Linked DNA regions of Homo sapiens. The protein of the gene in region 1 purifies or fractionates together with the protein of each later gene. This does not show direct contact. Each region holds a gene or a part of one and is shown in the gene's direction. Other genes may lie near its edges. The genes, in order: SLC22A24, CYP4X1, ADCY3, ODR4, GDE1, ZC3H14 and SLC25A16.

Evidence for each region.
Region 2: the proteins of SLC22A24 (region 1) and CYP4X1 purify together in Homo sapiens (affinity purification with mass spectrometry; one large-scale study listed by BioGRID and IntAct). This does not show direct contact.
Region 3: the proteins of SLC22A24 (region 1) and ADCY3 purify together in Homo sapiens (affinity purification with mass spectrometry; one large-scale study listed by BioGRID and IntAct). This does not show direct contact.
Region 4: the proteins of SLC22A24 (region 1) and ODR4 purify together in Homo sapiens (affinity purification with mass spectrometry; one large-scale study listed by BioGRID and IntAct). This does not show direct contact.
Region 5: the proteins of SLC22A24 (region 1) and GDE1 purify together in Homo sapiens (affinity purification with mass spectrometry; one large-scale study listed by BioGRID and IntAct). This does not show direct contact.
Region 6: the proteins of SLC22A24 (region 1) and ZC3H14 purify together in Homo sapiens (affinity purification with mass spectrometry; one large-scale study listed by BioGRID and IntAct). This does not show direct contact.
Region 7: the proteins of SLC22A24 (region 1) and SLC25A16 purify together in Homo sapiens (affinity purification with mass spectrometry; one large-scale study listed by BioGRID and IntAct). This does not show direct contact.

The regions. Positions count from the first base shown.
Region 1 is NC_000011.10:63,141,422-63,145,542, reverse strand, and holds the start of SLC22A24 (steroid transmembrane transporter SLC22A24), read left to right. Parts: upstream 1-1,321; 5' UTR 1,322-1,763; coding exon 1,764-2,165; intron 2,166-4,121. UniProt on the Homo sapiens protein: Renal transmembrane organic anion/dicarboxylate exchanger that participates in the reabsorption of conjugated steroids including estradiol-17beta-D-glucuronide (or 17beta-estradiol 17-O-(beta-D-glucuronate)), androstanediol glucuronide (or 5alpha-androstane-3alpha,17beta-diol 3-O-(beta-D-glucuronate)), and estrone 3-sulfate, as well as bile acids taurocholate and glycocholate, driven by an outward gradient of dicarboxylates such as glutarate or succinate.
Region 2 is NC_000001.11:47,037,169-47,040,668, forward strand, and holds part of CYP4X1 (cytochrome P450 4X1), read left to right. Parts: intron 1-1,491; coding exon 1,492-1,598; intron 1,599-2,173; coding exon 2,174-2,364; intron 2,365-3,500. UniProt on the Homo sapiens protein: A cytochrome P450 monooxygenase that selectively catalyzes the epoxidation of the last double bond of the arachidonoyl moiety of anandamide, potentially modulating endocannabinoid signaling.
Region 3 is NC_000002.12:24,822,738-24,826,237, reverse strand, and holds part of ADCY3 (adenylate cyclase type 3), read left to right. Parts: intron 1-108; coding exon of another isoform or gene 109-111; coding exon 112-193; intron 194-1,701; coding exon 1,702-1,860; intron 1,861-2,882; coding exon 2,883-3,029; intron 3,030-3,500.
Region 4 is NC_000001.11:186,396,338-186,399,837, forward strand, and holds part of ODR4 (protein odr-4 homolog), read left to right. Parts: intron 1-1,961; coding exon of another isoform or gene 1,962-1,975; coding exon 1,976-2,104; intron 2,105-2,616; coding exon 2,617-2,707; intron 2,708-3,500. UniProt on the Homo sapiens protein: May play a role in the trafficking of a subset of G-protein coupled receptors.
Region 5 is NC_000016.10:19,512,099-19,515,598, reverse strand, and holds part of GDE1 (glycerophosphodiester phosphodiesterase 1), read left to right. Parts: intron 1-3,500. UniProt on the Homo sapiens protein: Hydrolyzes the phosphodiester bond of glycerophosphodiesters such as glycerophosphoinositol (GroPIns) and glycerophosphoethanolamine (GroPEth), to yield a glycerol phosphate and an alcohol.
Region 6 is NC_000014.9:88,576,537-88,580,036, forward strand, and holds part of ZC3H14 (zinc finger CCCH domain-containing protein 14), read left to right. Parts: intron 1-1,448; coding exon 1,449-1,604; intron 1,605-3,500. UniProt on the Homo sapiens protein: RNA-binding protein involved in the biogenesis of circular RNAs (circRNAs), which are produced by back-splicing circularization of pre-mRNAs.
Region 7 is NC_000010.11:68,503,524-68,507,023, reverse strand, and holds part of SLC25A16 (solute carrier family 25 member 16), read left to right. Parts: intron 1-305; coding exon 306-439; intron 440-3,328; coding exon 3,329-3,392; intron 3,393-3,500. UniProt on the Homo sapiens protein: May be involved in the transport of coenzyme A in the mitochondrial matrix. Very little is known about the physiological function of this carrier.

The DNA.
Region 1 (4,121 bases):
TTTTTTTTTTTTTTTTTTGAGACAGAGTCTTGCTGTGTCACCCAGGCTGGAGTGCAGTGGCACAATCTCAGCTCACTGCAACCTTCACTCCCAGGTTCAAGTGGCTCTCCTGCCTCAGCCTCCTGAGTAGCTGGGATTATGGGTGTGAGCCACTGCACCCATCCAGGAATCTGCATCTTAAGATGTTTCACGGGTGACCAGTTTGAAATTCAAAAATAAGAACTTCTTGTAGGCAGAATAAATTCTGGAGATTCTGTTTGTTTCTTTGGGTTTCTTTTTAATCAACCTGTCTTTTCCCATTATATCCGTGCATGCTATTTAGCTGCTAGCTTTTGAATATCCTTGTAGGTACACAATTATGCCACACCTTTAACTGTAATTGTGTACTTATTATTCCCTCATTTAAAAATTGACTCTTGCAGTCCCTCATCCACTGCTTCATTATCTCAAGAATCTTCCCACAAGAGTAGGTCAAGCTGGCTGGGCATGGTGGCTCATGCCTGTAATCCCAGCACTTTCAGAGGCTGAGGTGGGCAGATCACATGAGGTCAGGAGTTTGAGGCCAGCCTGGCCAATATGATGAAACCCCTTCTCCATAAAAAATACAAAAATTAGCTGGGCATGTGGGTGAATGCCTGTAATCCCAGCTACTTGGGAGGCTGAGACATGAGAATTGATTGAACCCAGGAGGTCAAGGCTGCAGAGAGCCAAGATCCCACCGCTGCACTCCAGCCTGGTGACAGAGTGATACTTTGTCTCAAAAAAAAAAAGAGTAGGTAAAGTTAATTTGTAGAGGGATGACTCCCCTGCTCCATGGCATCTATCCAGGTATCATTAAACAGTTTCTCCTTAATCTTCCATAGCACACTGTGTATCTTCCTTATAGTTATATGATGACATTACAGTACAATTATTTACAAACCTATCATTTATATGAGACATTGAGCTCAAATTTTATTTTAAACTTATAAATAAATATATGTAAGTTAACATTGCTTTATTTACAGCAATAGCACCAGAAAGCCCAAAATGATATTTGAATGAATCAATAAATCTGGTGAAATATACTACTATAATACATAAAAGCACTATTTCCTTTCTCTTTGTTTCTTATCCTAATTTCCCTATTTTAAAAAATCTTTAAAGCCCTGTCATTGGTATGACTTGAACTGAAGCAGAACTACACTTAGCAAAAGTCAATGTTTAAACTCAACATTCCACTTTCCTTTAACTAAGAATAGTTTTTATTAACTTTTAGTAAAACTCAGTCCTAGTCCAAAAAAAGCCCTGCTCTCTGATCTTTGTACAAGAACATCATAAAGCAATTCACTTTGGATTTTCTAATATCCCATTTCTAAGAAGAATGGCAGACTATTGAACAGGTGTATTTTAGGTCACGTGGGGACTGCATCCACCTGAAAATCCACCGTTGACTTATCAGGAAACTCAGAGATCAGGATCTTTCACAGAGTAGTCTTTTAAGAAGATTCAGTTGTCAACAGCTAGCAGTCTCTTTGCCAAATAATTATATCTGTGACTTCTGAAACTATTTGGCTGCCTAAAGTTAAAGGACTTGGGGAAAGTCCTTCCACTGCTCTTCTGCAGTAGTGTCACACCACTCAGTGCAGGGCCCACCAAGAAGAAAGCAGTGTCAGGATCCACATGGCACTATGGTAACTTTGTGAAAGGGGACATTTTCTCCCTCTGAACTTCTCTTCATAAAGTCATTGTGCTTCCTCTTGGGGATCACCTGTTCAGTCTCAATGGGCTTTGATGTGCTCCTGGATCAAGTGGGTGGCATGGGGAGATTCCAGATTTGTCTGATAGCTTTCTTTTGCATCACCAACATCCTACTGTTCCCTAATATTGTGTTGGAGAACTTCACTGCATTCACCCCTAGTCATCGCTGCTGGGTCCCCCTCCTGGACAATGACACTGTGTCTGACAATGATACCGGGACCCTCAGCAAGGATGACCTCCTGAGAATCTCCATCCCACTGGACTCAAACCTGAGGCCACAGAAGTGTCAGCGCTTTATCCATCCCCAGTGGCAGCTCCTTCACCTGAACGGGACCTTCCCCAACACAAATGAGCCAGACACGGAGCCCTGTGTGGATGGCTGGGTGTACGACAGAAGCTCTTTCCTCTCCACCATCGTGACTGAGGTAAGAGGCCCCATGTAAATCTTCTGTTTATATGATTAAAGTGTTTGGAGTTAACACAAAAAAATTGACTTGCTTTATACCTTTAGTCCTTAGATGGGACCTGCAGTCAGCTCATTCTTCATTCCTTTAGCAGGTGGCAGCACCTGATTATCTATTAATACTCTACGATACAGCCAAGTGTATTAGTATTATATTGGTGTAAAAGTAAATTGTGGTATTAGACCATGAATTTTAAATCATTATAACTAGGCTCAAACACATCTTTATTAATCAAAATAGGAACCATTACAATCAACACATTTTTGGCAATGAGAAATAAGTTTGTTAATTCTGTAACATAAATATCCACGCTTTGGGATTTGACAAATTTTTCTGCATTCTGCTGGTTGTGAAAGTGTTTCTCCTACAAAATGTTGTTGAGATACTTAGTTTTGGTTGTTTTTGTTTTTTGCTTTTTGTTTTTTGAGGGAGGCCAGAGTTTTATTACTACTCAAATTAGTCTCCCTGAGCATTCGGGGAGCAGAGTTTTTAAGGATAACTTGGTGGTTGGGGGGCAGCCAGTGAGCCAAGAGTGCTGACTGATCAGGGCTGAAATCATAGGGAGTCAAAGCTGCCTTCTTGTGCTGAGTCACTTCCTAAGTGGGGGTCACAAGATCAGATGAGCCAGTTTATCGATCTGGGTGGTGACAGCTGATCCATCAAGTGCGGGATCTGCAAAATATCTCAAGCACTGATCTTAGGAGCAGTTTAGGGAGGGTCAGAATCTTGTAGCCTCCAGCTGTGTGACTACTAAATGATAATTTCTAATCCTGTGGCTAACGTTAATCTAGTCCCCAGGCAAGAAGGAGGTCTGCTTTGGGAAAGGCTGTCTTTGTTCAAACTATAAACTACAAACTAAGTTTCTCCCAAAGTTAGTTCAGCCTATGCCCAGGAATGCACAAGGACAGCTTGGAGGTCAGAAGCAAGATGGAGTCGGTTAAGTTAGATCTCTTTCACGGTCTCAGTCATAATTTTGCAAAGGCAGTTTCAATCCCTCCCTTTGGGTTTTATAACACCTTAATCTTAAGATGTAGGCTATGAAGACGGGAAAAGGCCATCTATCACTCCAGCTTCTTCCTGCTGACAGGGGACATAATGGGAATGGGAGTGAACCCCAAGGTGAGAAGAGTGGAACTGCTTTGCTACTGAGTGTATTCATGCAGGCCTGGATGGGCTTCCAAGGCTTGTGTGGCAAAAATATTAGTACTCTCATCTATAGTTTTAGTACAGTATTTAAATGAAGAGCATGCTATAAGGTAAATAATGAGTCCTAGGATGAGGAGTACAATTCCCAATTTTAAAAGCAAAGATTGGAAAGCATTTGTCTGGGGCCTTCTAACTCACAAATAATTTAGAATTTAGTCTAACCTGCAGAAAAAAAAACATCAAGAACAGCTAACAAAAGTGTAATATAGTTTTTCTTTTGAAGCATAATTTTTCTCTCTCCAGTCCCTATTTTTATTAAAAACAAATTATGATAGAACTGACTTACAGTTTACAAAACAAACTTTAGTTTCACTGTACTTGGCCTGATTATTTGCATAAAGTGCAGCAAGAATAATTATTTTTCACTTAGGCTTTTTTAATTGGCTTTGATGAAACTCTGTTCCATGAAGAATCTCAGATAAGGCTTTTTAAAAGCCGAGCCCAGCCATGGGTTTGAACCCTCAGATACCTATGAGTTGAACAAAGTCCTCTCCTCAAGATAACTTGGGGTTCCTGGGCCTGTTAGAAAGTGACATTCTTTACTTAACACAGGTCAGGAACCTTGTACAGGGACTCTGTCTGGACAAGGTATGAGGCCAGATTCCCCAGTGGGTTTTAATTGGTTCCATAAGTCAACTTTGATTCTTTACAAGAAGCATGCCATTCCAGTCAAAGCCTTGGAAAAATGACCAGTTTCTCCAATTGTATCCT
Region 2 (3,500 bases), on another chromosome or scaffold:
TCTTTACTTTTTAAATATTATACAATTATGATGAAAAAGCAAAATGCAAAGTGTTAGGGAAAATATTAAATGTTAAATTTATTCAAAACTTAAAACCTTTTCAATTTTTTTTTTTTTTTTTTTTTGAGATGGAGTCTCTATCACTCAGGCTGGAGCGCAGTGGTGTGATCTCAGCTCACTACAACCTCCACCTCCCAGGTTCAGGCAATTCTCCTACCTCAGCCTTCTGAGTAGCTGGGATTACAGGCACTGCCACCACACCTGGCTAATTTTTTTAAATTGTTTATTTTTATTTAGTCAAATATATCAATATTTTATTTTATTGCATCTGGATTTTTAGTAATCACAAAAAGCCATTCTCTATTCCAGGGTTTCTCAACCCTCAGCACTAATGGCTTCTTAGATTAGATAAGTCCTTGTTGTCAAGATGTGTGCATTGTAGGATGTTTAGCTACATCCCTGACATCTACCCACTCGATGTAGTAGAGCTCTGATAGTTATAGCAACCATAAATAACTCCAGACATTATTGAATGTTCCCAGGGCCCCCAGTTGAGAACCACTGCCCTGTACCCAGGTTGTAGAGAAAATTATTTATGTTTTCTTGTAGTACTTGTATAATTTCATTATTTTCATATTTAAATCAGAGATCTAAACTCCATTTAGAATTTATTCCTATATATGGTGTGAGGTATTGATCTAATTTTTCCAAATGTTTATCCAGTTGTCCCATCACCATTATTTAAAAGTTTATCTTTTCAAGTGATTTGAGATAACCATCACATTCTAAACGGATACATGTACTGGTATCTGTTTTGGATAAGAGTATATTTGGATGTTCTCGTGTATTCCATTGATCTATCTACCAATGTACCAGAATCACACTGTTTTAATTAAGGAGATTTTGTGGCTTTTTTCAACATTAATAGACCTTATTTTTAGAAAAGTTTTAGGTTTGCAGAAAAATTCAGCAGAAAGTACAGAGAGTTCTCATATTACCCATGTAACAAACCTGTACATGTACCCCTGTATCTAAAATAAAAGTTGAAATTTTTTAAATAGTAAATAAATATTACCTCTGTTCCATATTTTTGTTTTGTTTTTTTTCTCTCAGCTCCTTCAATTATAAATATATTGGCATTTCTTTGCCTGTCTTCTATTTCATTCCATTTTATTTAATAACTTTTCCGTGAAGATAAAATATTAGACTGAGGAAGAAAAGAATAATTGGTCACTTGCATCTAAACTTGAAATCATCTTAATTTTATTGCCCACATACTGATGGAAACTATGTTTTTTATTTGTGTTGTTTATCTTTGGAGCTTTAATCAAAAGTCCCTTTGATGAGAAAATAAACCATCTGTGAAAATTAGATCTATTTAAACGTCTGGAAATCAGGCAAGATTTGAAGCTATTCACTAACCATGGCTTGCTTTATAATTTATTTGACTTTGCCATCACTTTGGTAATTGGAAACTATTTTTCTACCCAGATACAATAATCCAGGAAAGAAAGAAATCCCTCCAGGCTGGGGTAAAGCAGGATAACACTCCGAAGAGGAAGTACCAGGATTTTCTGGATATTGTCCTTTCTGCCAAGGTAAATCTTCTAAATTTCTAAGCCTGCTCAAGTGACCAGTTAATTATGTAAGTAGGTGGGTAAGTGGGAATGGGATGGGGAGACAAGAATAAAACCGATTGACTAAATTTAACTGTACTTTGAATTGATGAGCAGCTTCATGCAATTTGAGACAAAGAGAGAATTCTGCAACTGTGTCGCTAGAGGAGGGTTAGTAAAGACTAAACGAACGATTTGACAAGATTTGAGGATTGTCATATGGATACATGGATTTTAGGGCATCATGAAAAAATGGTCACATGGATAAACGTAAAAATTATGATGATAAGGTCCTGGGAAATCTGGGAGTTTGAAGAGAATTTCTAGGGCCTGTTGATTGAGGGCCCTTTGTGCAAGGCCTGCTTTTCTTATCTAACCTTGGTTCTCCTTTATGCTTTGGGCAGAATATGGTTTATACCACATATTTGTTGAACTGAATTAAAATTTAAACCCCTATTTAAAGCTCTGATTTTTCCCCTCAAATCATTATTGTGGTTGTATCTCCAAACATTTATAAACTGGCATTTTATTTAAAATATTTGTATTGTACTTTCTAGGATGAAAGTGGTAGCAGCTTCTCAGATATTGATGTACACTCTGAAGTGAGCACATTCCTGTTGGCAGGACATGACACCTTGGCAGCAAGCATCTCCTGGATCCTTTACTGCCTGGCTCTGAACCCTGAGCATCAAGAGAGATGCCGGGAGGAGGTCAGGGGCATCCTGGGGGATGGGTCTTCTATCACTTGGTAAGATCTGCACCCCTAAATTTTCCTGCTAGTTTTCCCCCTGAGATTTTGCTTTATTTTTTGCGCTGGTACCTTAGTGACCCTAGTGCCTCAGGATATGTGTAGGTGAAACAGAAGAAGTAGGCTACTTTTCTGTTCTTTCTAAAGAGAGCTCCAAATTATTCTCTTGTCTTTCAGGAAAAAAAAAAAAAGTTTATTTATCCATAAATTGTCTGTCATTGGTTTTCTAATCAATGGTGTGTGAAATGTCTTATTTCTTTATTTCACCTTGGCTCTGATGCATTGGAAATGAGGACTTGATCCCTGGGCTGGCACTTAGAACTTAAACAATAGGGTCCAAGTGGAGCTCCTCTTCTGAGAGAGCTGAATGATTAGCTGCATTATTTAAGGCTCATTTTAGACATCTCCCAGCCGCTTGTCACCAATTTTATTCCTCAGGATTGATTTTAGACTTCAGACATAATATTCGATGATATATACTATAGTTAAGTTTAGCAAATATGGACTGAGGACATTTTAAATACTGAGACTTTTTTTATGACTACAATTTATTGTGGGCCCTGTCTTCGGTGAGCTAATGGTCTAATACAGGAGACAGGAGACAGACCTCCAAATTGCAGTGTAGCATAATGAGGGCAATGATAGAGATATGTGCTGGCTAACACAAAGACATAGAAGACAGGTACCTACCCTGGCATGGGAGCTCAAGGAGACTTCCTTGACATTTACGCTGACTGCAGGATAAGTAGGAGTTAGCCAGGTGGAAACTGTCATCTCTATCTTGCTAGACTTTAAGCATATACTGCTGTTAATAAAGCCCAGGTTATGCTGTTTGCAAAGATAAAATGTGTTCCTGACATAATCTGGTCAAAGGGACAGAAAGACAGAAATGCTAAGGACAATTCAGCAGCATGACCAGATAAAAAACACCATATTTCATATGCAAAAGTCAACTCAATTGAAACATTTGTAAAACCAAATTTGACATTATAAAAGTATATCAGAGATCTCATTTTATAAGGAAATAGAAGCCCTTTCCTACCATAAACTAAAGATTTAATCTATATAGCACAAAATACAATGTTGAGTAATCATTTTTAATTTATTTTTTAACTGACAAAAATTGTGCATATACA
Region 3 (3,500 bases), on another chromosome or scaffold:
TGAGCTCTAGGGCTGGGGTGGCAGGAAGCAGCACCATCTAGTTGGAGGGAATCAGGCCCCCTCCAGGAGGCAGATGACAGCCCTTTCAGTTGCACACGCTCTGCCCAGCAGGCTGCCCCTGGTGCCTTCCAAGTACTCTATGACGGTGATGGTGTTCCTCATGATGCTCAGCTTCTACTACTTCTCCCGCCACGTGAGTGCCGCCTGCACGATCCCCGCTCTGTGCCCACAGCCCACAGGGCCTCCTGAGAAGCAGCCCTGGGACCTAAGAGCCCAAGCTCCTAAGGAATGGGGCTTCCCTTCACCCAGCCCCACACGTGAGCCTGGTCAGGCCACCGCCTTCTCTATTCAGGCTCCTTCCTCAGTCACACAGGAAGACAGTTCCTCACCTCTTCCGTCCGACCCCCTCCAGGATGGTGAAGGAAGCATGGGAGTGAAGGTGGGAGGGGATAGAGTGAAGGCACAAACATCTTGAATCAAATCAATATCCCCTAGGCCAGGGGCTCATGGCCCCCGCACTCCCCGTGGCGCTGAGGGACATTAACACAACTGACCACAGAGCCAGAAGAGAAAGAGAAGGGAGCTGATGGACTTTCTGTTGGGTTAAAAGGAAAAGAGAAGGCCGGTGCAGTGGCTCATTTTGGGAGGCTGAGGGTGGAGGATCACTTGAGTCCAGGAGTCTGAGACCAGCCTGGGCAATATGGTGAAACCCTGTCTCTACTAAAAAATACAAAAATTAGCCAGGCATGGTGGCCCGCACCTGTAATCCCAGCTACTTGAGAGGCTGAGGCAGGAGGATTGCTTGAATCTAGGAGGTTGAGGCTGTAGTAAGCTGAGATCACACCACTGCACTCCAGCCTGGGTGACAAAGTGAGACACCCCCCCCGCACCCCCCCCCCCCCCGCCACAACCACCGCACTCAACCGGACAAAAAAGGAAAAGAGAAGGAAGAGAGGGAAGAGAAAGATCCTCTGTACTTAGGGCCCAATGTTAGTTCAAGTGCCCCCTACTGGCTTTCCAGGGAAGTACAGCCTTCCCAAGCCACTTCTTACCCAAATGGCGCCTGCTAGAAAGGGGGACTCCACCCTGAGTTGGGAGATCCCCACTGCTGCCACCTCCACGAGACAGACCTGCAGCTGAAATTAGGTCCCAAGAGGCCCCCTACACACGGAAGGCCTCCTGGATCTCTGCTGTAATTACGGAGGCTGGGAACCGCACCACTATTGGGTGGCCTTTTGATGAGGTGCAATCTTTGCAGGGTCTTACTTCCCTTGCCATTTAGCCATCTTCCTTCCAGCCTTTCCAAGGGGAGTTCCTCCATTCACGTTCCTGTTTTTCTTCTTTTTTTGAGACTGAGTCTCACTCTTTTGCCCAGGCTGGAGTGCAGTGGTGCGATCTCGGCTCACTGCAACCTCTGCCTCCTGGGTTCAAGTTGATTCTCCTGCCTCAGCCTCCCGAGTAGCTGGGATTACAGGTGCCCGCCACCATGCCCGGCTAATTTTTGTATTTTTAGTAGAGACAGGGTTTCACCATGTTGGTCAGGCTGGTCTCGAACTCCTGACCTCAGGTGATCCGCCTGCCTCGGCCTCCCAAAGTGCTGGGATTACAGGCATGAACCGCCACGCCTGGCCATTCCTGTTTTTCATCCTTCTATCCAGTGGCCAGCTTAGAGCACATGCCTCGCCTTGTCTGTGTCTGTAGGTAGAAAAACTGGCACGGACACTTTTCTTGTGGAAGATTGAGGTCCACGACCAGAAGGAACGTGTCTATGAGATGCGACGCTGGAACGAGGCCTTGGTCACCAACATGTTGCCTGAGCACGTGGCACGCCATTTCCTGGGGTCCAAGAAGAGAGATGAGGTGAGGGGTGTGGTCTCAGCCCGGAACCATGAGGCCATTTGTCTCCATCTGTTCTTTCTTTCAGGCAGCCCCCGCTGGGCCCAGGCCTTCTCAGGGACAGGGGACTGGGGCCTAGGTAGGGCTGAACCTAAACAGCAAACACAAATAAGCAAAAGAGGAATTTCTCCGGCCTCTTATAAAGTGCACTGCTGTAGGCATCGTGATGTGGGCCGTACAGCTCTGAGGCCATGTGTCAGAAGACAAGACTTTGGCTAGAGCCCACCTTTCTGTTGCCTGTGAACTTCTCCAAACAGAGTGGTTCCCAGCTCTACGGTACCCTCGTCTTCACAGCTGGGGCTGTTAGAGGAACTAGAGAAGCTGTTTTAAAATTTATTCAAAGTAGTGGCCGGGCACAGTGGCTCATGCCTGTAATCCCGGCACTTTGGGAGGCCGAGGCGGGTGGATCATCTGAGGTCAGGAGTTTGAGACCAGCCTGGGCAACAAATAGTGAAACCCTGTCTCTACTAAAAAATACAAAAATTAACTGGACGCGGTGGTGCACACCTGTCGTCCCAGCTACTCGGGAAACTGAGACAGGAGACTCACTTGAACCCGGGAGGTGGAGGTTGCAGTGAGCTGAGATTGTGCCACTCAACTCCAGCCTGGGTGACACAGCAAGACTCCATCTCTCAAAAAAAAAAAAAAAAAGTAGCGATGAGCTATTTTTAAATTATTCAGAGTTGGAATAATCTACAGCCGGGCATGGTGACATGTGTCTGTGGTCCCAGATACCTGGTGTTCAAGGCCGCAGTGTGCTTCGATCATACCTAATTGTGCTTGTTTACTGCCACTGCACTCCAGCCTGGGAAACACAGCAAGACCCACTCTTAAAAAAAAAAAAAAAAATGCTGGAATAATCTGACTGATGTGTGAGTCCAAAAAGCTGAGTGCACATGTCATGCATGGAAGATAGATGCATTTCTCCAACACATCATCCAGTCAGTCGGACATGCTTTGAGCACGTTGTCCGCACCTCTTTTTAGGAGCTGTATAGCCAGACGTATGATGAGATTGGAGTCATGTTTGCCTCCCTGCCCAACTTTGCTGACTTCTACACAGAGGAGAGCATCAACAATGGTGGTATTGAGTGTCTGCGTTTCCTCAATGAAATCATCTCAGATTTTGACTCTGTGAGTGCCCATCCCACCCTGCACTCTGGCCATGAAGCCGGCCCATTCCACATCACATCCTACAATAGGCTGCAGAGGCCAGAGAAACTGGCTTCATTTTCCCAGATAAGCCCCTTCCGCAATACATGGACTTCTGCAGCCACCTGGAACTGCTGGGCTGGGGAAGGGGAGGTGAGGTGGGAGCCCGGGAAATCACCCACAGGGTCACAGGATAAGGATAAGGACTGGCCAAGCAACATCTCGAGACCTCTCTGTCCTGGGACTGTCTCCTCAAATTCAGAGCCGGTCAGCATTGACTGGGTGACCTGTATACCAGGGAGAATGCTTTTACACACGCGCGGAGCCCCCCTAGGAGACTGCCGATTTTATGTCAGTGTTGAGGTTGTGGAAACAGGCCCAGAAAGTTAGGAAGTTCTCCCAGGATCATGTGGCAGATAAGCGGTAGACTAAGTAACAACTTTGATAGGAAAG
Region 4 (3,500 bases), on another chromosome or scaffold:
GTAGCTCATGCCTGTAATCCCAGCACTTTGGGAGGCCTAGGCAGGGTGATCGCTTGAGCCTAGGAGTTCAAGATGAGTCTGAGCAACAAGTGAAACCCTGTCTCTACAAAAAAATACAAAAATTAGCTGGGGGTGATGGTGTGTGCCTGTAGTCCCAGCTACTTGGGAGGCGAAGGTGGGAGGATCGATTGAGCCTAGGAGCTTGAGGCTGCAGTGAGCTCTGATAGCATCACTGTACTCTAGGCTGGATGACAGAACAAGACCCTGCCTCAAACAAAACAAAATAAAACTAACCAACCAACCAAAAAAATACCTCTTTTCTTTAATATGTGTGTGTATAGTCTTTAATAGTCTAGTCTGTTTTGGATAACAATGCCATAATTATAGATAGATAGATAGATAGATAGATAGATAGATAGATATATGTATATACACACATACACATATATTTACATATACTAATATATAAATGTGTTATATGTTAAAAATATATAAATTATATGTTAAATATGTAAAATAGGACATTCTTTTTAGAGTAGTTTTGTCTACAATAAAAAGTTATGGAGTAGATAGGGGAAGCCTGTTACTCCTCCTCCAACCCCACCTTATTGATGTATCAATGAACTCTACATGTGTCATATGGAAGCTTATTCCAGACATTGTATCAGCATCGTCACACTGCTGCTTGGTTTGATGATAGCCATTTTTGAATGGACCCAGGACCTTTGGAGCTGTGTGGTCTGTGGCAAATTTTTTGTCAACAAGTCCTTGACCATCTTAAAGTTTAAATTGTTTAACAACACCTAGAAGATTTACATTGCCTTAGACATTGCTTGAATTACACTAGACATCAATAATGCTCTTTCAATAGCTATGCATGTCAGTATTCTCCTCTTCATTATTTTTCCGCATTTATTCCTGATTGCATAAGCACATAGGCACAAAGCACTTTTCACAAGTTGTATGATTTGACTTTTGTTCTTCAGAATTGATTTGGTTGTTGAATGACTTATACTCCAAGTGTTCTTAGAACATAAATTACTTCCTTACCATTTCCATTTTTTGGTTATTTTTTGTAAATCATTATTTTTTGTTTCCACTGTTATTATAGGCCTCTATTACAGGTTGAGTGTGCCTTATTTGAAATGCTTAGGACCAGAAGTGTTTTGGGTTTGGGATTTTTTTTAGATTTTGTAATATTTGCAGAATACATACCAGTTGAGCATCTCTAAGCCAAAAATCTAAAATCTTATATGCTCCAATTACCTTTTCCTTTGAACATCACATTGGTGCTCAATAAGTTTTGGATTTTGGAGCATTCAGGATTTTTAGATTAGGGATGCTCAACCTGTAGTACTTTAACTATTTTGATACTGTCCTTGTTTTTGGCACTTATTAAGATGATGGGGTTGAAAATATATGTGAAACACCTGAAAACCGAACAAGAGCACTGGCATTCCTTAGACTAAAGAGGATGGGACTAGTCTATGAAAGTTTTTGGTTGAAAGTGTGTAAATATATGTGTCTGTGCATTGCTTGTAGTTTTACCATAGTTATCACATCCCACTTTGTATTTGTTATTGTGAACTTATTTTGCATTGCACAACTTATATCTAGTACATCATATCTTCTTTGTATATCTTTTAATCATCACAGTACTGATGTGAATAATTTGCAAATAATATATTTTTAGGAGCATATCGAGTGAATATTGAACCATTTTAGATGGTTATGTTAGAAAAATTTAGATGTAGTTGTGTTTAATTTCATTATATCTTCAAAATGACTGGAAAATAATATATAACTTATAAAAACAAATATGAAGGCCTTTAAATAATTTGCAGAGAATAATTTCAAATGCTTGGCTCAGTCAAAACTTTGTTCTCTCTTCATAAAATCGCTAATATAATGTTTAAATATTTCCTGTAGTTAATCATTGTTGGTTATTAGAACTTAAACAGATTTTGTCTTTCAGCTCCTGAATTCAGACCACAGATCCACAGCCACAGTCCAGATATGTAGCGGTTCTGTAAACCTTAAGGGTGCTGTGAAATGCAGAGCTTATATCCACAGCAGTAAACCCAAAGTTAAAGATGCTGTGCAGGTACAAAAAGGAATAACGAGCATATGGAACCATGTTAACTATTAACAAAAACCTAAAATTTTACCATTTTTTAATCTTATATTTTGTAATTATTAATTCGATTTTAACTGATAATGGCCTATTGTGCAGTCCAAATGTACCATATAATTGGTGTGAAGATTTTCATATGTAGAGTATCTATTTTGTGCCTTTTTAAAAATGATGGCTATACAAGTTTAGTAAGTGTTCCACTGTTATACATATTAGTATCTAATTTGGAACACTGCAATTATTTTTTTAGATGTGAAATTTTATTCATTTATCTGTTTTTAACTATTTAGATAAATTTATCATTAAACTATAAATTTGTTAATAAGTGTGCTAAATAAGTGGAAATAAAACATTGAATGATGTATCAGTTATTTAGTGGGCATGATTGTACTGGAAAGCAAATTATTTTTTTTGTTAGTTAAATATTGTAAATCTAAAGTATTTTATTTCTTACTGTGTTTTTTGTGTGTTTTTCCCTGTAGGCAGTAAAGAGGGATATATTGAACACAGTTGCTGATCGTTGTGAAATGCTATTTGAGGATCTGCTTTTGAATGAAATTCCAGAAAAAAAAGTTATGAGTATAAAATAAGTACTTTTTTGCGTATCTTCAACTGATATAGTAATAAGATATCAAGATATAGCAGATACGTCATCTTTTATAGCTACCTATCTATATTTTCAAGCAGTATATCATCTTTTATTATTGGATGAAAATTTTTCAGTTGCTACTCAGATTTTTTTTTTTTTTTTTAGACAGAGTCTCACTGTGTTGCCCAGGCTGGGGTGCAGTGGCACAGTCATGGCTCACCTGCAGCCTCAGCCTCTTGGGCTCAAGCAGTCCTCCTACCTCAGCCTCCCTAGTAGGTGGGCCTGCAGGCACATGCCATGATGCCTTGCTAATTTTTGGTATTGTTTTTTTAGAGACAGGGTTTTGCCATGTTGCCCAGGCTAGTTTCAAACTCCTGAACTCAAGTGATCCACTGTCTTTGGCTTCCCGAAGTGCTGGGATTACAGGTGTGAGCCACCATGCTTGGCTCTAGAAAAACGTTTTAGAACACTATCAAATTTAGCAAATTTGTCAACAATTAAGAATTTCAGGGAGGATTTTTAAAAAAATTAATTCCAAGTGAACTTCTCCTGCCAGAATGAGTAAACTTTGTTAACATTTTAAAGTTAGTATTTTTTGTTGATATCTATGAGTATTTTAAATAATTTAGCCATAATCAAAATATTATTAGTGTTAAATACTATATAATAGCTCCTTTAGTAGGTACTATTTATATAAACTACACTAGTTTATATGCTTCTCAGCTATTACTCTAACAGACTTCATTACGTTTAAAAAAGGCTGAGTTACAGTATCTT
Region 5 (3,500 bases), on another chromosome or scaffold:
GGGAAAGGCTGGTTTGAATATTATAATGACATTGCAGCTAATAAAATGTCAGGTTCAAAGTTAATACTTAAAGCAAAAATGTTTAGGGTCATCATTACCCTTAAAAATCCTTTAAGGGAGCACTGAGTCCATTTCTCTGGAATTTGTGCATCCTAGGAAAAAAAATTGTGATTTTCAAAAAATCCCTTAAGAAGACAGCAAAGGCAACATATTATCTCAGTGTCTTTAACACAACCAGTCTTTGCTCCACTATTGGAACAGAGTGTGTTCTATGATTGAAAACTAAATGAAGTAATTGGCTTGTGTTTACGGATTATGTTGTGGGAAAAAATAGATATTTTCTCTAGAATTATGCTCAGTGTGATGAGATGCTTGTCCTGAGAGGAGGATAAGGAGGAAACTAAGATCAGCCAAAGGAATAACAAATTCAGGTCTCCCATCTTTCACTCTCAGGGAATAGAAATTGATTAGAATGGCTGGGATAATTGCCTGTAATGTTTAAATTATCCTTATCTTTTTTTTTTTTTTTTTTGAGTTGGAGTTTCACTCTTGTTGCCCAGTTTGGAGTGCAATGGCATGATCTTGGCTCACTGCAACCTCCACCTCCCGGGTTCAAGTGATTCTCCTGCCTCAGCCTCCAGAATGCTGGGATTACAGGCACATGCCACCACACCCAGCTAATTTTTGCATTTTTAGTAGAAACGGGGTTTCGCCATGTTGGCCAGGCTGGTCTCGAACTCCTGACCTCAGGTGATCTGCCTGCCTCAGCTTCCCAAAGTGCTGAATTTACAGGCATGAGCCCACTGTACCTGGCCTATCCTTACCCTTTTTTAAAAGCATGATCTTACAGTTGAAATAATGCAGTTGAATTAGCATTAAGTTAAATAATAATTTTATTATGAGAGAAAAGCTAATTTCTTTTGTATCAAGCACTTAGTTTTCATTTTCTTTATCAGAAAATTATGTCTTAGAACATTATTTATTTTAAACAGTTGCACTTAAATAAATACACAATACAGTTAACAGATTTATGTATTCCTAAGAATTCCTCCTGCATAGCATTCTATTAGGGAAATTACAATCTGAAAATTAAGTCTTTGAGTTTTCCAAAGGTGGCATATACTCTGCCCTTTGGGAAGTAGGGTTATTAATAATGTTATTAATTCAATAGAAATTCAGTGATTTCTTAAAAATTAAATGATTTTTGTTGTTGTTGCTGGTCTTTGGTCAAGAATATCTGTATTTGAACACATGGAGGTTCCTGAATGATGGAGCACTCAGAAAGGGCATGGAAGCTCTATGCCCCTTTCCCCATACCTCACCCTATGCATGTCTTCATCTGTATGCTGTGTAACATACTTTATAATAAACCTGTAAACGTGTTTGAGTTCCGCAAGCCACTCTAACAAATTAATTGAACCCAAGGAGGAGGAGGTGGGAACCCCAATTTATAGCTAGTGTCAGAAGCACAGAATTACCAGAAAAGGAAAACAAATCAAAACAAAACAAAACAAAAAACAGAAAAATAACATCCATTATACAATATAAGAAACCAAAGACCATCAATCTCTAATCTCTGTGCTCAGGTGTCTGTGTGCTTCAATTCTTCTCATCTACGAGTCTTGGGTTTTCAATGCTCACTTGTCACCAGGATATGAATTAAAAATGTCTTGGGCACCACCATGTGGTCCAGTTGTCTTAACCTTTCTAAAAGTGCTTGTGCAAACCATTTACTTGTTGCTTCTTACACAATTACAGCCCAACCTACTTGTGTTTAAAAGCAACCACAGCATGTTTGAAAGTCTTATGCAATAAAAGGGAAGTTTATGATTACATTTAGTCTGTACTTACTGGATACTTTCAGTTTTATCAGTTCCAAGTACAGCAAACTCTGGATAATATGGTTAATTACTTCCTCCATGATTCTTTCGACCTTCATATCAATTTTGCTAAATATGGAATGATTGACTAGCCAGAGCAATCAGGAAAGAGAAAGAAATAAAAGGCATCCAAATTGGAAAAAGAGGAAGTCAGATTGTACCTCTTTGCTGACAACATGATTTTGTATGTAGAAAAACCTAAAGACTTCACCAAAAAACTGTTAAAACTGATAAACAAATTTAGTAAAATTGCAGGATATAAAATCAACGTACAAAAATCAGTAGCATGTCTATACGTAAATAATGAACTAGCTGTAAAAGAAATCAAGAAAGTAATCCCATTTACATAGCTACCAAAAAAAAAATAACAAAATACCTAGGAATAAATATAACCAAAGAGGTGAAAGAGCTCTTACAAGGAAAACTACAAAACACTGATGAGAAAACTTAAGAGGACACAAATGGAAAGACATCCCATGCTCATGGATCAGAAGAATTAATATTCCTAAAGTGACCATTCTACTCAAAATAATTTACAATTCAGTGCAATCCCTATCAAAATATCAAAGACATTCTTCAGAGAAATAGAAAAGCAACAATCCTAAAATTCATATGGAACCGTAAAGAAGCCCAAATAGCTAAAGCAATACTGAACAAAAAGGACAAAGCTGGACATATCACACTACCTCATTTCAAGATATACTACAAAGCCACAGTAACCAAAACAGCATGGTATTGGTATAAATACTGACACACACACACACACACACACACACACACACACACACACAAAACAGATACATAGACCAGTGGAATACAATAGAGAACCAAGAAATAAATCCATATATTTACAGCCAACTGATTTTCCATGAAGGCACCAAGAACATTACAGTGGGGGAAAGGAACTCTCTTCAATAACTGGTACTGGGTAAACTGGATATCCATATGCAGGATAATGAAACTAGACCCCTATCTCTCACTATATTTAAAAAATCAACACAAAATGGATTAAAAGTTTAAATTTAAGACCAGAAACTATAAAACTACTAGAAGAAAACACAGGGGAAAAGCTCTGGGACATTGATCTAGGCAAAGATTTTATGGCTAAGACCTCAAAAGCACAGGCAACAAAAACAGGCAAATGTGACTATATTAAACTAAAAAGCTTCTGCACAGCAAAGGAAATAATCAACAGAGTAAAAAGAAAACCTGTTGAATAGGAGAAAATATTTGCAAACTATTCAACAGACAAGTAACTAATATCCAGAATATACAAGGAACTTAACAGCAAAAACAATAATAATCCCATTAAAAACATCTATTCAAATCCTAATTTGAATAAACATTTTTCAAAAGAGGACACACAAATGGCCAACAGGCATATGAAAAAACACCACAAATTATTAGGGAAATGCAAATCAAAACCACAATGAAGTACCATCTTATCTAGTTAGAATGGCCATTATTTAAAAGATTTTTAAAATAACAGATGCTGGCGAGGATACAGAGCAAAAGGAACTCTTATATTCTGTTGGTGGGAATGTAAATTAGTACAGCCATTATGGAAAACAGTATGGAGGTTTCTCAAAAAACTAAAAATATAGAACTACCATACAATCC
Region 6 (3,500 bases), on another chromosome or scaffold:
AGCTGATTCTGAAATGCAAACAACTGATGGGTGTCATTTTGTGTTGTCAAATTCTGTACTCTCTGGCCGACCTGTTGTAGCCAATGTGTAAACTTGTGTTAAGAAGCTGATGGTAATGAGCTACTCTAAAAAGATTTAAGTTTTGCTGTGGATTTGGTGGGTGTACTTACAGCATTGCCCTGCTTATCCACTCTCTCGCTTTTTTTTGTGACCCCCCTTCCTAAAATGAGGTAAACTGTAGCCATCAGTTTTTTTATTTGTTTTCTTTTTTTGAGGCGAAGTCTTGCTCTGTTGCCCAGGCTGGAGTGCAGTGGTGTGATCTTGGCTTACTGCAATCTCTGCCTCCTGGGTCCAAGCGATTCTCCTGCCTCAGCCTCCCAAGTAGCTGGGATTACAGGCGCCCACTACCATGCCAGGCTAATTTTTTTGTATTTTTAGTAGAGGCGGGGTTCCACCATGTTGGCCAGGCTGGTCTCGTACTCCTGACCTCAGGTGATCACCTGCCTCCTCGGCCTCCCAAAATGCTGGGATTACAAGCGTGAGCCACCGCGCCTGGCACCATCAGTTTTTGATCCTGATACTTGTCTGTCCTCTTGGTTCTCCTCATCCCTAATTTAACCTTGAACACAAAATTCAACAGGTTTTGGCATATAGAATAAAGATTATCAGGCAAAGGCGCACTCTTGACCTAATGATATATCTACATTTCATTTCCTGATCTATCAGCAATATTAATTGTCTAGAATGATGAGAAGTTTAGAGAAGTTCCATGACTTTGAAATTTTCTTTCTTTACCTAGGTTATCTAAATTACAATTTGAAACTCATATAAGATCATGAAGCTAAGCTTAAATAAACCGCATTTTGTTGAAAATGAATACATATGTACTATATTGTATTCATGGTATGTGGTTGTATGGATATTGTTTACATATGTTTGGATAAATAGGTTCAGGTATCTATCTCAGTAACGTAAGAAAAAATGAATGGTATCTATGGATTGAACTCCTCATATATATGTTCTTTTCTTTTCTTTTTCTTTTTTTTTTGGAGACAGAGTCTCACTCTGTTGCCCAGGCTGGAGTGCACAGTGGTGCAATCTCGGCTCACTGCAACCTCCGCCTTCCGGGTTTAAGCAATTCTCCTGCCTCAGCCTCCTGAGTAGTTGGGATTACAGGTGTGTGCCACTATGCCCGGCTAGTGTTTGTATTTTTAGTAGAAACGAGGTTTTACCATGTTGGCCAGGCTGGTCTCAAACTCCTGACCTCAAGTGATCCACCCACCTTGCCTCCCAAAGTGCTGAGATTACAGGCATGAGCCACTGCGCCCAGCCTGAACTCATATGTCCTAAACCAAAGGAGGCATTTATATTTAATATGACATAGTCACTGTGGAGTTTTGACGTATTACTGCATTTGTATTTCTATCTTTTTTGCTTTTATGTGAAAGTTCCACAGAAACAGACACTTCCAGTTGCTCCCAGAACTCGAACTTCTCAAGAAGAATTGCTAGCAGAAGTGGTCCAGGGACAAAGTAGGACCCCCAGAATAAGTCCCCCCATTAAAGAAGAGGAAACAAAAGGAGATTCTGTAGAAAAAAATCAAGGTAATAACTTAAATGATGTTTCACTCTTTACTACAGTTTTTTCATGAGGCATTGAATATTTTCCAATGGATTTTTATGAAATATTACACTATGAAAAAAGTGATGATTAAGCCCAGAAATAGAATGAGAAGAATACCATGAGGAAGGTTCATACCAACACTTCAGAAAAAAATTTTTTTTTTAAAGAGGTAGGGTCTTGCTGTGTTGCCCAGGCAGTCCTCAAACTCCTGGGCTCAAGCAGTCCTCCTGCCTCAGCATCCTTAGTAGCTGGAGGTGTGTACAAGTGTGTGCCACTGCACCCAGCCCTTTCTAGAAATTTTTGAAAGTCTTTTTATTGTGGAAATTTTTAATATTCTCAAAAATGGAAAGGCTAGTACAGTGAACTCTCATGAACCCAGTCATTAAGCCTTAGTTATTATCAGAATTTTGCTGGTCTTTAGATAGCTCCTTCTTAAAGATATATTTATTTCTGCATTCTTTCTTTTTCTCTTTTTGTTGATCCTGCCCGTTTACCTGAACTTGAAATTTTAGTTACCTTTAAATCTCCCGTCTCTTAAGCATCCTGTCTCTGACCTCCCATATGTGTCCCAGCAACCCTAATTTATCCCCTCGTGCCTAACATACTTCAGTTTGCTTCCAGGTTTTTTTTTTTTTTTTTTTTTTTTGCTTTTTTCTCAGCTTTCTCCCCCAATTCCTATACAATCTTTTGACTTTGAAAGTGTGTCTCTCATCTTCTGACTCCTTTGTGAAAGTATCTCTCCCCTCCTCCTCATTACCCAGAACTAACGCTATTAGTTTGGACTTTTGGTGTCTGTTATCTGACCCCTGGGCCTGCACAGCCCTTCTCCATGACTCTTCAGACCTTTTGTCTCTTTTGTCGTCAAGAAGGATTCTTTTTTCTTCTGTTTCTTTTTCTACTAAGATTTGAATTTTAAGACCCCACCAAAAAAATCTATATGCTTATTATGTTATTTCTCACATACTTTTCAAGAACCTTGGAATATATTTTTTCATTTCTTCAAAACTGTCCTTTAAATTGTTCCAGGTTTCATGAAACCTTATGATTTCAGAATTGTCAATTCTGTATTTGTTTCCTCATTGTGTCTCTTTAAAAATTTTTGACTGTATTGTTCAGTTTGCCATGACAGCGTTATATACTATTCTGATAATTGATAGGCCTGAGGACAAGACCTGTTTGGTCCCCAAACAGCAGATAGGTACCAATTGGAAAATGTGAATGGGCCAAATTGAGAAGAGGAGCTGAAACTGAGGAGGGATTTTGCTCAGTGCAGTGGCAGATGAGGCTGATCTAAAAGGACTGCAGTGGTCTACTCCCTGTGGAGTCTGTAGTGTGTTGCACCAAGGTTTTCTTCAAACACAGGACTCTACGTGAGAGTCTTGGAGTGGAATCAGATGGAGCAGGGAAACAGACAATAGAGAAAAGGAAAGAATGTCAGATAAAAATAGGAGAGGAAAACAATAGGAAATCTCAAAGCAAGGTGCCATATTTTTTAACATCACAAAATCAACAGAAGAAGGTTGTTGATTCTGAAGTTAGAATAGCTATCCAAAGCAAACTTTCCCCTAAAATGAACAACAGAAAAGTATCAAGGTCAAGTCCTGTGCCGAATTAAAAGATAAAAGGGAATAAAAGACAAAACAGCATTGTTTCAATGAAAGCATGCTGAAAGGTATACCAAAAAGAAATACAATTTCAAAGTGAGCTAGAAGACATTATTTAAATAATACAAGACAAAGCCAAGAAAAACATAAAACAGAAGAACTTTGAGGCTGGGTGCAGTGGCTCATGCCTGTAATCCCAACACTTTGGGAGGCTGAGGCAGGAGGATCACTTGAGACTAGCCTGGGCAGCATAGCAAAACCCTGTCTCGACAA
Region 7 (3,500 bases), on another chromosome or scaffold:
TGTTAATATTTTTTAGATTGCTATAGTTTAATATAATTTGCTATTATTATAAATAGAATTTGCTGTAATTTGTAGTTGTTTCTACAGTAGGTTTTATATTATATGGGGTGTGCTTATTTATATTATTTGGATATATGATGCATTTTTAGTAGGTTTAACTGTTTTATAGAAATTACTATTCATGTAATCCCTCAAGCAAAATTATATCTTGAGTGATGGCACATTAATCTTTATCTGTGATTGTCATGAAAATTTAGGTTTAGATAATTTTCTCTGTTTTAACAGCATTTTTCCTCTAAAAATAGGAGTATTTTCTGCATTGCGTGCTGTTCCTCAAAAAGAAGGATTCCTTGGATTGTATAAAGGAAATGGTGCAATGATGATTCGAATCTTTCCCTATGGTGCAATCCAGTTTATGGCATTTGAGCATTATAAAACGGTAGTTAAACTTTGATCTTTTCTCTTTTGCGTTCTTGAATATCATGCATGCTTGACCAGGCATTTGCTTTGGACATTTAAAAATATGTAAAAGTTTCATATTTTTAAAAAGTTAAATTATTGGTTTTTTTTTTTTAATTTTTGAGACAGAGTCTCGCTGCCCAGGCTGGGGTACAGTGGCACGATTTTGAAAGGCTCACTGCAACCTCGCCTCCTGGGTTCAAGCGATTCTCCTGCCTCAGCCTCCTGAGTAGCTGGGATTACAGGCCTATGCCACCATGCCTGGCTAATTTTTGTATGTTTAGTAGAGACAGCGTTTTGCCATTTTGGCCAGGCTTGTCTCAAACTCCTGGCCTCCCAAAGTGTTGGGATTGCAGGCATGAGCCATGGTACCAGGCCAAAAAGTTACTTTTGATATAGCAATGCCTTTTTAAAGGAATAAGACTTGTGACAGCTTAAGATTTTAAATATAACTTGTCTTTGGAATTACCGATTCCAGAATTGTTAGTCATTTATGAGTTATTTATTTATTTATTTATTTAATTTTATTTTTTGAGATGGAGTCTCACTCTGTTGCCCAGGCTGGAGTGCAGTGGTGCACTCTTGGCTCACTGCCACCTCCATCTCCTGGGTTCAAGCAGTTCTTTGCCTCAGCCTCCTGAGTAGCTGGAATTACAGGCGCCCGCCACCACACCCAGCTAATTTTTGTATTTTTAGTAGAGATGGGGTTTCACCATCTTGGCCAGGCTGGTCCTGAACTCCTGACCGCGTGATCCACCCGCCTCCGTCTCCCAAAATGCTGGGATTACAGGCTTGAGCCACCGTGCCCGGCCTTTATTTATTTATTTTTTCAGACGGAGTTTCACTTTTGTTCCCTAGGCTGGAGTGCAATGACATGATCTTGGCTCACTGCAATCTCTGCCTCCCAGATTCTTACAGGCATGCACCACCATTCCTGGCTAATTTTGTATTTTTAGTAGAGGCGGGGTTTCACCATGTTGGTCAGGCTGGTCTGGAACTCCTGATTCAGGTGATCTGCCCACCTTGGCCTCCCAAATTCTTGGGATTACAGGCATAGCCACTGCACCCGGCCAAGTAAATTCTTTATGTTCACTCCTAATGAATGAGAGCTAGAATATCTTTAAAGAAGATAATAATAAATCCATATAATATTAATATATTTTTAATGTGTTTCCCTTCCCTCCTTCCCTCCCTCTTTTCTTTTCTTTTCTTTCTTTTTTGAGATAGTTTCTCTGTCACCTAGGCTGGAGTGCAGTGATGTGGTCCTGGCTTACTGCAGCCTCAACCTCACGGACTCAAGCAATTCTCCCACTTCAGCCTCCTGAGTAACTGGCACTAGAGGCATGTGCCACCACCCCCGGCTAATTTGTTTTTTCTTTCTTTTTCAGAGGTGGAGAAGAGGCCTGGCTGATTTTTTAAAAAATATTTTGTAGAGATGGGGTCTCACTGTGTTGCCCATGCTAGTCTCGAACTCCTGGGCCCAAGCTATCTGTGGGCCCCAGCCTTTAGTGTGCTTTTTGTTACTCAATTGTAGGAGAGGAACACTGTGACTTTGGATTTTCTTATTAAACAAAATAGTGAAACTGGCTGGGCACAGTGGCTCATGCTTGTAATCACAGCACTTTGGGAGGCCGAGGTGGGAGTATCAGCTGAGGTCGGAAGTTTGAGACCAGCCTGACCAACATGGAGAGACCCCTTCTCTACTAAAAATACAAAATTAGCTGGATGTGGTGGCGCATGCCTATAATCCCAGCTACTCAGGAGGCTGAGGCAGGATAATCGCTTGAACCCGGGATACGGAGGTTGCAGTGAGCCAAGATCGTGCCATTGCACTCCAGCCTGGGTGACAGAGTGAGACTCCGAATCAAAACAAAAAACAAAAAACAAGGCCGGGTGCGGTGGCTCATGCCTGTAATCCCCAGCACTTTGGGATGCCGAGGCGGGCGGATCACAAGTTCAGGAGATCGAGACCATCCTGGCTAACATGGTGAAACCCAGCTACTCAGGAGGCTGAGGCAGGAGAATGGTGTGAACCCAGGAGGCGGAGCTTGCAGTGAGCCGAGATCGCACCACTGCACTCCAGCCTGGGCGACAGAGCCAGACTCTGTCTCAAAAAAAAAAACAAAAAAAACACAAGCAGCAGAGATCGGAACAACATTCTAAGCTAGTCAGCCAAAGAGAATTGATGCCATTTGTGTATCAGGACTTCATTGTCTATAGAGCATTTAAAAAATAAAATAAAAAATTAGGCTGGGTGCGGTGGCTTCAGCCTATAATCCCAGCACTTTGAGAGGCCGAGGTGGGTGGATCACCTGAGGTCAGGAGTTCGAGACCAGCCTGACCAATGTGGTGAAACCCCGTCTCTACTAAAAAATAAAAAATTAGCCGGGCGTAATGGCACACGGCTGTAGTCCCAGCTACTTGGGAGGCCGAGGCAGGAGAATCGCTTGAATCTAGGTTGCAGTGAGCCGAGATCGTGCCACTGCAATCCAGCCTGGGACACAGAGCGAGACTTCATCTCAAAAAAAAAAAAAAAAAAAAAAAAAAGTAGCAGTTTATTCCTACTACCCCCAGTCACTTGTTAAGGGCTTGTGTTCCTTAATACACAGTATCATATACTTAGCAATACTAAGCTAGCTTGCTTCTGCAGAAATGCAAAAAATTAAAGCAGAGACTACAGAGGAAATATCCCCTTCTGCTGTGATATAACACTGCCAAGCTGTATTTAATTGTGCTCATTTCGTTCACATTTATTATTAATTTCCTTTTTATTAGTCCTGTAACTCTTGAAATAAATCTTCATTATTAAACAGTGAAATGGGCAGCATTTAAAAAATATCTCATTTAATTCAGTGTTCTTGTTTTCTAGTTAATTACTACGAAGCTGGGAATTTCAGGTCATGTGCACAGATTAATGGCTGGATCCATGGCAGGTAAGAGGAGTTAGGTATATTTTATTTCTGACAAATTAATTTTCTATTAAAATATTTAATTTGGTTTAGATTATATGAGTGCCATTGGGGAAAGCACAGGTTGCAGGT